2 linked regions of the Homo sapiens genome follow. The protein of the gene in region 1 purifies or fractionates together with the protein of each later gene. This does not show direct contact. Each region holds a gene or a part of one and is shown on either strand. Other genes may lie near its edges.

Region 1 (7,203 bases):
CTGTGATGAAACTGGCAAAATAATGGGGGAAACCTATACAAGTCCTGCGTATGTTATAGGTTGTTAAAAATAAAATTAACTTTTGGGCCAGGCCCGGTAGCTCACACCTGTAATCCCAGCACTTTGGGAAGCCGAGGTGTGCTGATCACCAGAGGTCAGGAGTTCGAGATCAGCCTGGCCAACATGGCAAAATCCCATCTTTACTAAAAATACAAAAATTAGCCAGGCATGGTGGTGCTTGCCTGTAATCCCAGCTACTTGGGAGGCTGAAGCAGGAGAATTAATTGAACCCGGGAGGCGGAGGTTGCAACGAGCCGAGATTGCGCCACCGCACTCTAGCCTGGGCAACAGAGCAAGACTCTGTCTCAAAAATAATAATAATAATAAAGTTTTTACTGCTACCAGTATGGTATCTTTTTTTTTTTTTCCAGCATTCCTTTAGCAGAAGATTCACAAGACCAGTAACATCTTTTAAGTGTACGACAAGAGGCAGAATATATTTAAAATCTAGTTGAATTTGTTGTCAACACACATCAATGTTTTCTAGAATATCCTAGAACATCCTAGTACAGAAGGTGAATGACAACATTCACAGCAACTGGATGCAGAAATCTCCCTGAATTAACATTACATATCTTAAGTAATTTACCCTGTATATTTTCATTGGTGGACTATATGCCATATGCCTTCATCCAAGCACAGTAAGGATCTAGTTCAAAACTGAACACAACTTGAAAATTTTAAAATTTCAAAACACATGCATTCCATACACAACATTTATACTTACAAAACTATTTGGACATACCATCATACAGCTTAACTTGCTCTATGACTAATTATTGCATTAGGTGAATCCAACATTTCGTAAACTTATCAATGGTAAAAATTTATTGTTCAAAACACTACGATGAAATGCATTAAAATAACACGACTGATGAACAGAAAGAGGGATAGAGGGGTAAATATATGATAAAACAAGTGGAATGCAATTTTTTTTTTGGAGGGGGTTTTGAGACAGTGCCTCCCTCTGTCACCTAGGCTAGAGTGCAGTAGCACGATCTCGGCTCACTGCTACCACCGCCTCCCTGCTACCACCGCCTCCCAGGTTCAAGCGATTCCCCTGCCTCAGCCTCCCGAATAGCTGGGATTACAGGCACCCGCCACCACGCCGGGTTAATTTTTTGTATTTTTAGTAGAGACGGGGTTTCACCATGTTGGCCAGGCTGGTCTCGAACTCCTGGCCTCAAGTGATCCTGCCGCCTCGGCCTCCCAAAGTGCTGGGATTACAGGCGTGAGCCGCTGTGCATGTCCGGAATGCAATGTTAACAGTAGGATCTAGGCGGTTGGGTGTATGACTGCTCCCCGTAAGTTTTATAATATTGACGGATAGTTCAAAATATTTTCCTAATAAATTGTTGGAAAAAATAATACTTGACACTTCTTTGGTCATTTACAATTTAAGCTTTTAAGGAGAGAAACACAGATTAAAGAAACTCCTCTGTGGCATCCCACACAGGCACTATAGTTGGGACAAACCTGGATTCAAATCCTACCTCAACCTTGCAACTAGCTGTGTGATCTAAGTAAATTACTTAAGCCCTCAACACCTAAATTTCCTCATCTGCAAATAGGTTCTAGGAGGAGTTACTATGAAGTTAAATTCTTCACATAAAGGTCTTAGCTCAGTGCCAGGCACACAGTAAGCACTCAAAACATCAGCTGTAGCATCATTACGAGATTACTAATTTTACGCTAAGCTGAAAGGGCATTCTTCATAAAGTAGTAATTTTTTGCCCTTTTGCTAATTGATCGTTTCTGAAACCATTCCCAAAAGGAAGACTCCTAAAAGGAAACTTACTTCTTATCATGCTAAGCGGGGAGGAAGTAAAAGAAAAGTGAGGGATATTGCTCAATCGATAGTACAGTATTGTTCGCCATCTGAAAAAAACCACTCAGAATTAAATAAGGAAAGTTTCCAGACAAACTTTAAAAGGTATTCAAACAACTCCTATGTAGAATTGGCTTCACCTCTGCAGGTTGATTGGGTACATCCCTGTTATGAGAAAACTTGTCGTATTCTTCCAAGTCCCTAATTGCGAGTAAGAGGCTAGGCTAGAACATGACATTCATAGTAGCCAAAATCTTTCTCCTAAATCAGGACATGCCAACGATCCCACTTCTTCACAGGTAAGACCACCACCCCGACTTTGGTCTAGATAACGGCTATGGGGGGAGGGGAAAGGAGGCAGGAAAATGAATTCGCGATGGTGTTACTGAAGAACCCTCCGGTTATTTCTCCTGAGACCCCTCCACGACTTATTCCCGCCACCACCACCCCCACCTGACCTCTCCCCAGTTAACTTCCAGACTCTGATGTACTAAAGATGCACTAAAGATGCACTTAAGAATCTGACACCTCCCCTCCCTGGGCCTAGATATCCCACCCCAGTGCTGGGGAACGTCGGGGGGAGGAAGGCAAACAACGGCCCCCTCCCCTCCCCCCCACCCAGCACCAAATCTTTGTCCCACCTGCCGAGGGACCGCTCGCCAGCGCGCTCCGGACCCAAGGCTGCCTCAGACCTGCCCGCAACCTTGTCCTAACTGGGCCTCGGCGACCCCTCCACGAACCTGAGTATGGCCCATTCCCGGCCCCGGGCCGCGCCCCGCCCCCCGCCGCCCGAGTTCTGCCTCACCTCACCTACCCTCTTTCGGGGGCCGGACTCCACCTCTCTCTCCGCCATGTTGGGCCCCGCTCGGAACCGCTGCGGCTCCCCGCGCGGTGGCGGCGGTACCTCTCGGCCCCCCGGCCCCCGCCCACACTGCAGGCACGGCCGCCTCGCGGCAGCTTCCCCGGACCCGGCCGGGCCTTGCGCCGAGAGTGGGGAGGGGGCGGATGCCGCGCGCCGGGCCGCAGCTTCTGAGATCCCACGGGTCCGCGCGTGGGCGGGAGGGCCTGCCCGGGGACGGGGTGGGGGCCGGGACTCGGGGGGTTAATGGCCTCCAAGGGGCCCCGTGAGTAGGATTATTTTCTCTCAGAGAAATTCCTCCGCCTGCGGTTTCTTAAAGGGATCACCAAATCAGCCCCTTGCGCGCGCCCCTGATGCGCAGGCGCACCCTAAGTCCCTCCTTCCTTTCCCACCAAGCCCCCGGTCCTGAGCGTGCGCGGTAAGTGGCCATGGGTAGGCCAAATCCTGCAAGTCTCTTTGCTGCCAGCAGCTGCTCCCACCACTCAACTATGGCCGCTCCCTTAAAGGGACCATGACGCAGGGATGAAGGAGAAATGAAAGAAATTACTGGAAAGACAATCTGGAGAATTGGGTGCAATGTCAGTGAAGGGTTCCACATCACCATCTTACACCTGACTACAGTGGTACCATTGAAGAGGGAAAGTCATGGTAAGCTGAAGTTCTCAGTGGACCTCTGAACATGAAGAATCCCAAACCAATGAGGGAACAAGACAGTCATCTCAAGGAAAACCAACTTTCCTCCCTTTCGACTGCCTGTTCTGAAGCACAAGGCATAGAATATCAAGAGCCAACTCCTATAACCTCACCTTAAAATCAAAGCTTTTGGTGATTTTGAAGATTGAACCAACAACTGGAAATAATTTCTTCAATAGTAATTTATCCTTAGAACATCAAAATGGAGAAGGATCTTAGGGAACCATTTACTCCAGTGCTCCCAATGATAAAATTGCAGCCTGATCATGGGAAGGAATTTGTCCCAATGTAACTAATGGCTGGTGTGGAGTTGGAATCAAGATTACAGTCTCAGTCCTCCAGGCTGTCTTCAGGCGAGAGATAAATTTGGTTTAATTTGATATCCCTAGAAGATTAAAAATTGAAGTTTCATGGTATTTGGAGAATATCATAATTCTCTTGTGAAGATGTAATGATTTGCAGATGATGGGTGTCCTCATTCACCTCTATTGAAGGAGCTTGACAATCTGCCTTAAAGGATAAGCATCTTATTTCTAAGCAGGAAACCAGGAAGTAGATTTGGGTCTATCTTGTTCCAAAACTGGGTCCTAAGCTGAAAATCGCTGAAAAGAATGAGGGCTTCATTCATTCCTCTTCTGTTCATTCTAGTTCCCACAAGCTTTGGGTGCAGAAAAAATTAAGTTTATAATGATAGTTCAGGGACAGTGGGGAGACATATAGTAAGAAATACAAAGAAGATGCCTCCTGAAGGTCATTTCCCATGACAAGACATATTCAAGTGGGAATGATAACTCCTGAAGTCACAGGATAATGAGATGTAACTTCTGTTTTCTGTTTTATTTAGCACTTGGTAGCTATTCTGAAACAGATGTTTTCTAATCTGTAATATTTTGCTGAAAACTTTTGGTGAAATTGCTGGAAGTTTCCATACTGGCCTTGCTTATGCCTTTAGCACTGTCTTTAATTTCACTCCTCGGTAGGAGAGAAGAAAGAAGGACAAAGAAATATGTTCATTTCAGCCAGAATTTTAAAAACATGTTCCCTTTAGTTCCATGTCCAGGACAAGAAAGAAAAGAGGAGCCAAGAAAAGATAATTCCAGGGAATGTGGCTACATAAAACTTGTAGTGGTTTCCACCTGTTTTATTGGCAGTGGAATACTCCCTTCTAATAAAATCTGGTGGTTTAAAATGTGGAGCTGCTAAGTTGGGAGTGTAAGTGGGGAACCCACTAGTCTATTCACCCAGCTTCACCCTTGCACTCTCTCTCCTTTCATGCCCCCTCCCATCATTACAGAAATGTTGAGTTTCTCAGATCACAGTTTAAACTTATTAGTTTAGTCTAACTCCACATTTTCAAGATGAAGCCTCTGAGGCTTAGAGAAGATATGATTTGCTTGAGATCACACACAGGATTAGTAACAGTATCAAGACTGAAACAGACATCTTGATCCTCAGGGCTCTGTCCTACACAGACTGTTTCTGGAGGTATTAGCAATGTGTTAGGTCTCGAATAATAGGTGGGATTTGTGCATTTCAGATAATATACAAGCATAACATGAATGTTCAGGGCAGTCATCCATATGGAGGAATAAGACAAGAGAAAACCATTTAGTGAGCACTGAAAAGTTAATCATAATTTTATAGAAGGATTCACAGAGCTTAAGTGACTAGTCCAAGATCATTCAGCACAGAGGCCAAGTCAGAATTCAAAGCCTTGTTCTTTCTGACTTATTTGAAATATCGTAAAGTAGACATTGTAAATTGGTGGCCTTGTGACCAAATCTGTCCCACAGAAATGCATTTGATTTGTATTGTGTATAGCTATATGATCTTGGTCAAGGTAATTGTCCTGTGCCTCACTTTCCTTATCTGTAAAATGGGACACCAAGAGGATTAAATTAGTTAACATCTCTAAATCTCCTAGAACACTGTTGGTTCCTAATACCATATGAGTATCATTATTATTATTATTATTATTTTTTGAGACAGAGTCTCACTCTGTCATCGAGCTAGAGTGCAGTGGCGCGATCTGGGCTCACTGCAAGCTCCGCCTCCCGGGTTCACACCATTCTTCTGCCTCAGCCTCCCGAGTAGCTGGAACTACAGGCACCCGCCACCATGCCCGGCTAACTTTTTGTATTTTTAGTACAGACTGGGTTTCACTGTGTTAGCCAGGAGGGTCTTGATCCCCTGACCTTGTGATCCGCCTGCCTCGGCCTCCCAAAGTGCTGGGATTACAGGCGTGAGCCACCGCGCCCGGCCATTATCTTTTTTTTAAAAAAAAAAAGTTAAATCATATATCAACATTTTAAATGGGATATTTCACCTACAAGTTCAGTGCTCTGACTTGTTTCAAAAAAAAAAAAAAAAAAAAACTAGACTATAATGGGGCTAGTATCTTGCAAATATCAAACAGATTTCTTTTAACTTTCTTAAGTCATCTTCTGTCATAGACTCTTGCTTGAAATGTAGCCTTGAGACTTATTTTCCCAATCAGGAGAGAACAGAATGGAGAGAAAAAGAATTTGCTAAATTTTCTTAGTTCCATTTAATCTATGAAGCTCAGCACATAATAATTTCATAGAGTTTTTACATACTCCACAGGAAATGCCTTCCACCCAAATATCCTTCCATCCAGGACAGCTAAGCCATGAGGCTGCATATAGGGAAATAAAAGAAAAGTCTGACTCTTTTAATAAAAGGGTAGAGAGAAGAAGAACAAAGAGAAAAGTAAGAGAGGCATCATTGAGAGACATGTGCTCCTGTCTTCCCATTCCAGCTCTTCAAGGCAGAGAGGATTCTTACTCTGCTCCTGTTTAAGATTCCAAGTAGAGATGACTTGCAGACTATGCCCATACCAACAAGCAGACAGCCACATATGAGCAAAAGTCATGCCCTGATGTAGTTGGGAAAAAAGAGCAGGTCTGCATTTAGCTCCTCAGAGTGTCTCTCAGCCAGAGATGAATCCAGGTTTTACAGATCTTGAAGCTTACATGATGGGGGGAGAGGGAGGGTTTTTTTGTTTGTTTGTTTTGTTTTGTTTTTAAGAAAAAGAACACAGAATTACATACACAAAATTAGGTACAGGGTTTTGGGCGGAGCTCTGCAAGTGAGTGGTCCTTAGCTCCTGCGAGAGAAGATATCCAGAAGTTCCCACATACCCTGTAGAAGAATACGGAAAGTAGCCAAGAATGCTGGCTGGCAAGTATAGGAGGAAGTAGCTCTGTAAATTACACTGGGCCAGGAACAAAAAGTAGTAACAGCCAGACCTCAGGAAGAGCTGTGTGGTTTGCCTTCAGGCTCTGAGCAAACTTAGCGAGGCCAGGCTACAAAACATTCCACTCTCTTAACAACAGGCTGTAGAGCATCCTGAGAGGTCAGGGACTCCGAATAGATTCAAGGTCTCAGGCTTCCCCAAAGTCATAATGCCTCATAAATGCAGACGTTATTTTAGATACTCACTCAGAGGGAGAGGGCAGCCACAGGAAAGATACAGTGTTTCTTTCCAAAAGAAATTATTAACTAACAGAATTCTAACCATTAGATTCAAATATGTTTTAAACTACATTGGACATTTAGGTAGATCCATTCAGAAAATGTTAGGAAGAAAGTAAAACAAGTGGGATAAAAAATAACTGTAGTGGGGCTACTTTAGATATGTTAGTCAGTGAATATTTTCCGAGGAGGTGACTTTGTTTTTCTTTTTCTTTTCTTTTGGAGGCAGGGTTTTGGCTGGGCACGGTGGGTCATGCCTGTAATCCCC
Region 2 (7,276 bases), on another chromosome or scaffold:
CCGAGAAATCTGTGTCCAGCCAGCATCATTCCCTACCAAGGCCATCACTGGGATCTACAGGAAGATGATGAAGGCAGGCCGCAGCCTTCAGCCCCATGGCTTGGCCAGCCAGAGGACAGAGACAGGGATAGGGCCTCTGCCAGAGAGGAGGCTCCCTCCCCACCTCAGCCCACCCCTGGTGACATCTCCCAGAACCCCAGGCCCTAAGCTTCCCTCAGGCCAGCCCAGTCACCTTGTGTCTGACGAATGTATCAAATTCGATGAGGCTGTAGCCAAAAGCTCCGTCCCCAAACAGGCACCAGACCTAGTCGGGAGGGGACCCAGGATGGTTAGGGTGGATCAGGACCTAGAGAGCAGCAAGTCTCCCAACTCCAGTGCCTCACCTCAGCATCTGGCCGGCACAGCTTGGCCCCAAGTGCAAATCCTGCACCAACTCCCAGAGTCCCAAAGGCCCCTAAGAGGACCAAGAGCAGGTGGGTGTGAAGGCGTCCTGATGGATGGTGCCCACTGCCCCAGGCGGGGGCCCTTCCTTACCAGGATCGAGCCAGCGCAGGGGGCCGCGGGGCTGTACCAGATGGGCAGCAGTGCCCACGAAGTCCCCGCCATCCACCACCAGAATTGAGTTGTCAGGTAGCGTTTCCTCCACCAGCTGCAGCACCTGCACTGGGTTCAGGTGCTGGGCCACAGGCATCGCTGCCTTCTCCCTGCGACAGGACAGCGAAGGTCACCAGGGTTGGCAGCAGGGTCTGCCGGGAACCCCCTTCCCACATCCACTCCACCCAGGCCCCACCGAAAGGTCTGCTCCTTCTGCCGGTCGGCTTCCCGCAGCTCCTCCACCCAGTCTGGGGCCCAGGTCTGGCCCTGAAGGCCCTCCACTAACTTCAGCACGAAGGAACCCACATCTCCTGGGGAAGGAAGAGGACACAGCTGTGGGGAGCTGGCTTCCTCCTGTTCTTCCAGCATCAGAGGCCTCAAAACAGCAGGAAGCCAGCAGCAGCATCCGAGCAGGCAGACGGGAAGCAGGCCAGGGGTGCTCCTAGAAAAAAAACAGGTGAAACACCCCAGAACCTGCCAGAACCAGGGGAGGGCAGCCCAGGTGAAAAGGGAAGACAAGGCCCAAGAAACAAGGGTTAAGGAGCACAAGGCAGGTGACAAACCCAAGCTGGCCTCGTCCCCTCCCTCCACCTCCTTCTGCCTGGGAAACACTCAATGAAAAGAGCTACATCCACCAAGCACATCTCTCAAATCCAGGCACGTGGAAGCGCACAGCGAACGTTACTGAAGTGAACTAACAAACAGCCCCGTGATGTATCTTTCACCACCCCATTTTTCAAATGATCAAATGGAGGCTCTGAGAAGGTGAGGCTCTGCCGCTGTTCATCTCCAGTTCAGGCCTCCTCGCTTCTGTCCTGGCCATTTTGAGCAGCCCCCCTGGCCTCCACCCAGCCCCCTTCCGGCCTGCCGTCCATGGCTGCTGAGTGGACCTTCCCAACACAGATGCAACGGTGCTACTTCTCTGCTTAATACAAGAGTGTCCTGTCGCCTAGGCTGCAGGGGAGTCAACATCCTCAGAATGATGAACCAAGTTCAAGTCCAAGGGGACTAAAATAAGGGGAGGGGAGAGATACGGCAGGAAGACAGGCTAAGGGGCCAACGAGTGTGCTCTCTGTCCTGAGGGCAGTGGGCAGTGTGGGAGGGAACGTGATCACATGCACGTTTTCAAGCCTCCCTCTGTGTCCACCCCACCATTTGTTCCTACAGAAGCATCTATCAGGCCGGGCGCAGTAGCTCTGGTCTGTAATCCCAGCACTTTTGAGAGGCCGAGGCAGGAGGATCACTTGAGGCCAGGAGTTCCACGCCAACCTGGGCAACACAGTGAGATGCTGATTCCACAAAAAAAAATTAACAAATTAGCCTGGCATGGTGGTGCATACTTGTAGTCCCAGCTACTCAGGAGGCTGAGGTGGGAGGATTGCTTTTGAGCCTGGGAGTTTGAGGGTGCAGTGAGCTGTGATTGCACTACTGCATTCCAGCCTGGGTGACAGAGCGAGACCTCGTCTCTAAAAAATAAAAATAAAAAAAATTTAAAGAAAGAAGCATTCATCAGTTTGAGAGCCAACTATTTGTCTCTGGTTGACTGGCTACCCCTAGGGCAAGGTCTGGGCCTCAATCACTGTACCAGGCTCAAGCCAGCTGCAGCAGAAACCAGGAGGAGAGGGACTGGGAGGAGCACATATGTGTACGGGGGGATTAAGGGGCTCACCCTGCACAGCCTCCTGGGGCTTCCAGAAGATGTCTGAGTTGAGCAACATCTCTTCCCGATTACGATTGACGATGATGATCTTGCTGCTGTGGCTGAGGACACGGCCATAGGATAGGCGGAAGTCACACACAGTTCCTGGTGTGGGGGACAGGAATGCAGTAGGCAGAGGCCCCATGTCGTCTACCTTACTTGATCCACTGTGGTGGACTGGATGCAAATGAGTCCCTGTTCCTCACCGAGTCTCCCTGCACCTGTGCCACCTACAGTGACCTTGCAGCTCCCCACACCCCCTGAATCGGGACTGGCCTCATGACATGCTTTGGCCAACAGGATAGGGCAGAGGCAGGTTATATTTTCCCAGATGGCCATAATATCTCCCACCCTACATCCATTTGTACAAGGTCACCTTGACATGCCTCCCATGGAGAGAGGTGCAGCCTAGGTCCCCTTTCCTTGAAAGTGACACACCATGACACCCAACAAGGAAGATATGCAGTTTCTTCCTTGTTCACTTTTAGAGGCCTGGGTGGGGCCAAGGAATGTGCTCTCTGTCTAAGAAGTCTGACTACCCTGAGGCCATCATGCTGGGAGGAAACCGGAGCCACACATAGAGACCTGTGTAGTTGCCCTAGTCCACAGCCCCTCCAACAGCTGGCGTCAATTGCAAGACCTCTGAGTGAAGACACCTCCAGATGATTCAGGACCCCCACCCCCCATTCCTGCAGACTCTACTTCAAGAAGCCACACAGCCTCCACTCACTCTCTTGAATAACCGCACTCTCCTAGCCCCATAGTTTTCTCATCCTTCACCAAGTCGGCCAGCCCAGGCTAGCCTACTGGAGGATGAGAAACAAGGGGGCCATGGAGACAGGGGTGAAGAACTCTATGACCCCAGCTGAGGCCATCCCAGACGAGCTGCAGGGCCAGCCAATCCCCATACAGGTGAGCAAGCCCAGCCTGGATCAGCACAGCTGCCTTCCTGCCTAACCCAAGTGCAGACTCATGAATGAGCCCAGCCAAAACCACAGCTACCACCTACCTTATAGGTGGATCTTGAGAAATCAGAAATGCATTTTTAGCCATTGAGTTTGGGGATGGTTGTTACAGGGCAGTAGCTATCTGATACACCTATTATGCGTCTGGTTGGGTTCAAAGCGCTTTATGTGAAAATGTGTATCAAGTACAATAGGTGCCCACTAGACCTTCCTCCTCCTTCGTGTGAAGCTGGGTAACAGGGTGAGGGGGTTCCTGGGGGAAGGAGGGAAAGGAAGAGGCTCAGGCCCACCTGCTAGGACAATGACATCCGCCTTCTTCAGGGCCGCACTGCGGTTCTCCCGGATGTGGAGGGGGTGGTTGCGGCCTAACAGCCCCCGTGCCATCCCTCCAAGGAAGCAGGGAACACCCAAGGTCTCCACGGCAGCCCTGGGAGTCCAGGCAGAGCAGAGGTCAGTGTGGCCGGGGCCTCCCGCCTCCCCAAGAGCACCCGAGGACTGGGGACTGGGAACGTGAAAACAAGGGCAGGGCTGGCGCTTCTCACCGAAGCTTGTCGGCAGACGTTGGGGTGAGCAGGGCCTGACTCCCCAGCACCATCAGAGGCCTCTTGGCCCGGCTCAGGATCTCCACACAGCGCTGAACCTGGAGCGAGAGGTGGGGATCAAAGGGCTGTCTTTTTATTTATTTATTTTTTTGAGACACAGTTTCACTCTGTTGCCCAGGATAGAGTGTAATGGCATGATCTCAGCTCACTGCAGCCTCCACCTCCCAGGTTCAAACGATTCTCCCGCCTCAGCCTCCAGAGTAGCTGGGATTACAGGCGCGTGCCACCATGCCTGGCTAACTTTTGTATTTTCAGTAGAGACAGGGTTTCACCATGTTGGCCAGGCTAGTCTTGAACTCCTGGCCTCAAGTGATCCGCCTGCCTCGGCCTCCCTAAGTGTTGGGATTGCTGCTGTGAGCCACCGCGTCCAGCCAAAGGGCCGCCCTTGAGTCGCCATGAGCACCCAAGATTAAGGCCCCAGTACTGACTCAGGGAGAGGGTCAGGGGGCCCTCTCCCCTCAGGGAGAGGGTAGGGTCCTCAGACACAAAAGAGAGGCAATTCACCTGCTGCGGGGAAGCCTGGGGGATGTCCAGGGGCAGCGGTCCCTCGGGCTGAGGCTCCCAGGCTCCTGCAAAGAGGTTGGCCAGGTAATTCTCTAAATACCTGCAAAAGGGAGGGGGAAGAAACCAAGTTGCCAGAATTAACTAACTACAAGGATTCCAGGATCTGAGCAAGGAAAGGGGCCGGGAGAAAAGCCAGGAGCAAAGTGGCATGGGGACAGGGTGGATGAGTGACACCTCAGGGACAGACGAACCCTAGTGGCCAGGTCTTCAACTGCCTGTTTGCCCTCGGTAGCCTCTGGGGTCCACCCCAACTCCACGTAGCCCCCCAGAAGCAAGGAACGCAGGCTCAGCATGCCAGGATTAAGCCTGTGGGTCCAACAGATGTGAGCTCAAGTCCTGGCTCTGTCACTTCCTAGCTGTGCAACTTAGGGCAAGTGACTTCACCCTTCTGAGCTTCCACCTCTGTCAATGTAAATATGAACCTCCCTCCCCAGGTTCAAGGATCTGTCCACTTAGGACATGAGGCGCTTTGCATGGGAGTTCTGAACACTGTCCTCTCCTGCTTCAAACAGGGTCTTCTCGGTCTCCTTGCTCACTGGGCCCCAGGGCCCCAACTTTCCTGAAGGACCTGTGCAGGGCCCTGGAGACACAAAGATAGATCCTGCCCAGCCCTCCCCTCAGGGGGCGCTCTATCCAGCGAAAGACAGACACATGGGCATTGGCAGGAAACAGTCGGAGCTCAGAGTCAGAAGCCTCTGCTTTCACCGTTAAGGACAGGCCAAGACAGCACAGAAGCAGCCCAGGATGGAACCGTGGGAAGCCCCGCAAGTAAAGAAAAGGCAAGGGAGGCTGAGGCAGGAGGATTGCTCGAGGCCAGGAGTTCAAGGCTGTGGTGAGCTATGATCATACCACTGCACTCCAGCCTGGGTGATAGAGTGAGGCCCTGTCTCAAAACAAAACAAAACAAAAAAGGCAAGATAAGAGATAGCCTTGTGAGAGGCAGCCCAAGAGAGAGGGGCAAGGAGAACAAGGGGAGGGACTGACTGGGAAGCCAGGGGGCAAAGTGCATTAAGAATGAGGCTATATGACCAAAATGGTGAAACCTCATCTCTACTAAAAATACAAAAATTAGCTGGGTATGGTGGACTGCACCTGTATTCCCAGCTACTCCGGGGGCTGAGGCAGGAGAATCACTTGAACCCGGGAGGTGGAGGTTGCAGTGAGCCAAGATCGCACTACTGCGCTCCAACCTGGGGGACAAAGCGAGACTCCGTCTCAAAAAAAATAAAGAGGCCATAGAACAAAATCACTACTGCCTGAGCTGACCCTCAGGCGCTTCACACACATCCGGAGTACAGGAGCCTGACTACCTTGTCCACTGATGATGCCCCGTGCCTGTCCTGGAACCTGGCACATGGCTGCCGCTCGCTAAATGTATGGAAAGGAAGGGCCAAGGACAGGCAAAGGGAAGGGACTGAGGGGAAGGGAGAGAAGGAGGAAGAAGAGGAAGAGGAGGAGGAGAAGAAAGGAAAGGAAGAAGAAGAAGAGAAGAGGCCAGGCGCAGTGGCTCATGTCTGTAATGTTTGAGAGGCCGAGGAGGGTGGATCACTTGAGGTTAAGAGTTCAAGACCAGCCTGGCCAACATGATGAAACCTCGTCTCTACTAAAAATACAAGTATTAGCCAGGTGTGGTGGCGGGCGCCTGTAGTCCCAGCTACTCAGAAGGCTGAGGCAGGAAAATCACTTGAACCCAGGGGGAGGCGGAGGTTGCAGTGAGCCGAGATCACGCCACTGCACTCAAGCCTAGGCAACAGAACGAAGAATCTGTTTCAAAAAAAAAAAAAAAGAAAGAAAAGGACAAAGATGTGAGGGAAGGAAAGGAGGAGGAAGGAGAGGGCTCGAGTCTGGGCTCTGCCACTTTTTTTTTTTTTTTTGAGACGGAGTCTTGCTCTGTCACCCAGGCTGGAGTGCAGTAGCACGATCTTGGCTCACTGCAAGCTCCACCTCCTGGGTTCACGCCATTCTCCTGCCGCAGCCTCCCAAGTAGCTGGGACTACAGGCGCCCGCCACCACGCCCGGCTAATTTTTTTTTTTTTTGTATTTTTAGTAGAGATGGGGTTTCACCATGTTAGCCAGGATGGTCTCGATCTCCTGACCTCGTGATCTGCCCACCTCGGCCTCCCAATGTGCTGGGATTACAAGTGAGAGCCACCGCACCCGGCCTGGGCTCTGCCACTTCTTAGCTGTGTGACTTTGGGCAAGTGACTTCACCTTTCTGAGCTTCCTCCTCTGTAAATGTAAGAATGAACCTCCCTTCCGAGGTTCAAGGATCATCCTTTAGGAGGAGGAAAACGGAGAGGACGATGGGAAAGGTGGTGGGGGAAAGGGAGGAGAAGAGGAAGGAAGAGGGAGGAGGAAGAGGAGGAAGAAGAGATGATGGAGGAGGAGAAGAAAGGGAAAAGGAGGAGGAGGAGGGCTGTCCTGAGCCTCTCCCCTTTGCTGCCTCCACGAGGGCCGCCTTGCTTTCCCTACCCACCCAGTTCATTCCTGCCTCAGGACCTTTGCACATGCTGTTCCTTCTACCTGGAATGCTCTCCCCCCAGCTGTCTCCTCCCAGTCCACATGTGAATCAAAGGAGGATGGGTGTGGGCTGGAAGCTGCAGGAGAGAACGGGGGATAAAGGAGGGAATGGCAGGGGTGGGGCTATTCACCAGGAGACCACTCGGCCCACGAGGCCCTTGGGTGGCTTGGCTGGCACCATCTCCTTCTGGACCATGAAGTAGGGGTACAGCACGTCAACGGGCAGCTCCACAAACACCGGACCTGCAGGGACAGGGAGGACGCTGAGTCCATAACATGTCCCCAGCCCCTCGGCCCCAGCACTGCTCAGCATCACCATCCTCCACCTACCT

The links.
Region 2: the proteins of ZMYM4 (region 1) and HACL2 purify together in Homo sapiens (affinity purification with mass spectrometry; 2 studies listed by BioGRID and IntAct, with this or other methods). This does not show direct contact.

Annotation. Positions count from the first base shown.
Region 1 is NC_000001.11:35,264,585-35,271,787, reverse strand, and holds the start of ZMYM4 (zinc finger MYM-type protein 4), read right to left. Parts: upstream 3,080-7,203; 5' UTR 2,742-3,079; coding exon 2,703-2,741; coding exon of another isoform or gene 2,694-2,702; intron 1-2,693. UniProt on the Homo sapiens protein: Plays a role in the regulation of cell morphology and cytoskeletal organization.
Region 2 is NC_000019.10:15,115,618-15,122,893, forward strand, and holds part of HACL2 (2-hydroxyacyl-CoA lyase 2), read right to left. Parts: coding exon 7,275-7,276; intron 7,188-7,274; coding exon 7,076-7,187; intron 4,465-7,075; coding exon 4,365-4,464; intron 3,899-4,364; coding exon 3,801-3,898; intron 3,686-3,800; coding exon 3,549-3,685; intron 2,399-3,548; coding exon 2,264-2,398; intron 906-2,263; coding exon 791-905; intron 705-790; coding exon 535-704; intron 455-534; coding exon 384-454; intron 305-383; coding exon 233-304; intron 55-232; coding exon 1-54. UniProt on the Homo sapiens protein: Endoplasmic reticulum 2-OH acyl-CoA lyase involved in the cleavage (C1 removal) reaction in the fatty acid alpha-oxydation in a thiamine pyrophosphate (TPP)-dependent manner. Involved in the phytosphingosine degradation pathway.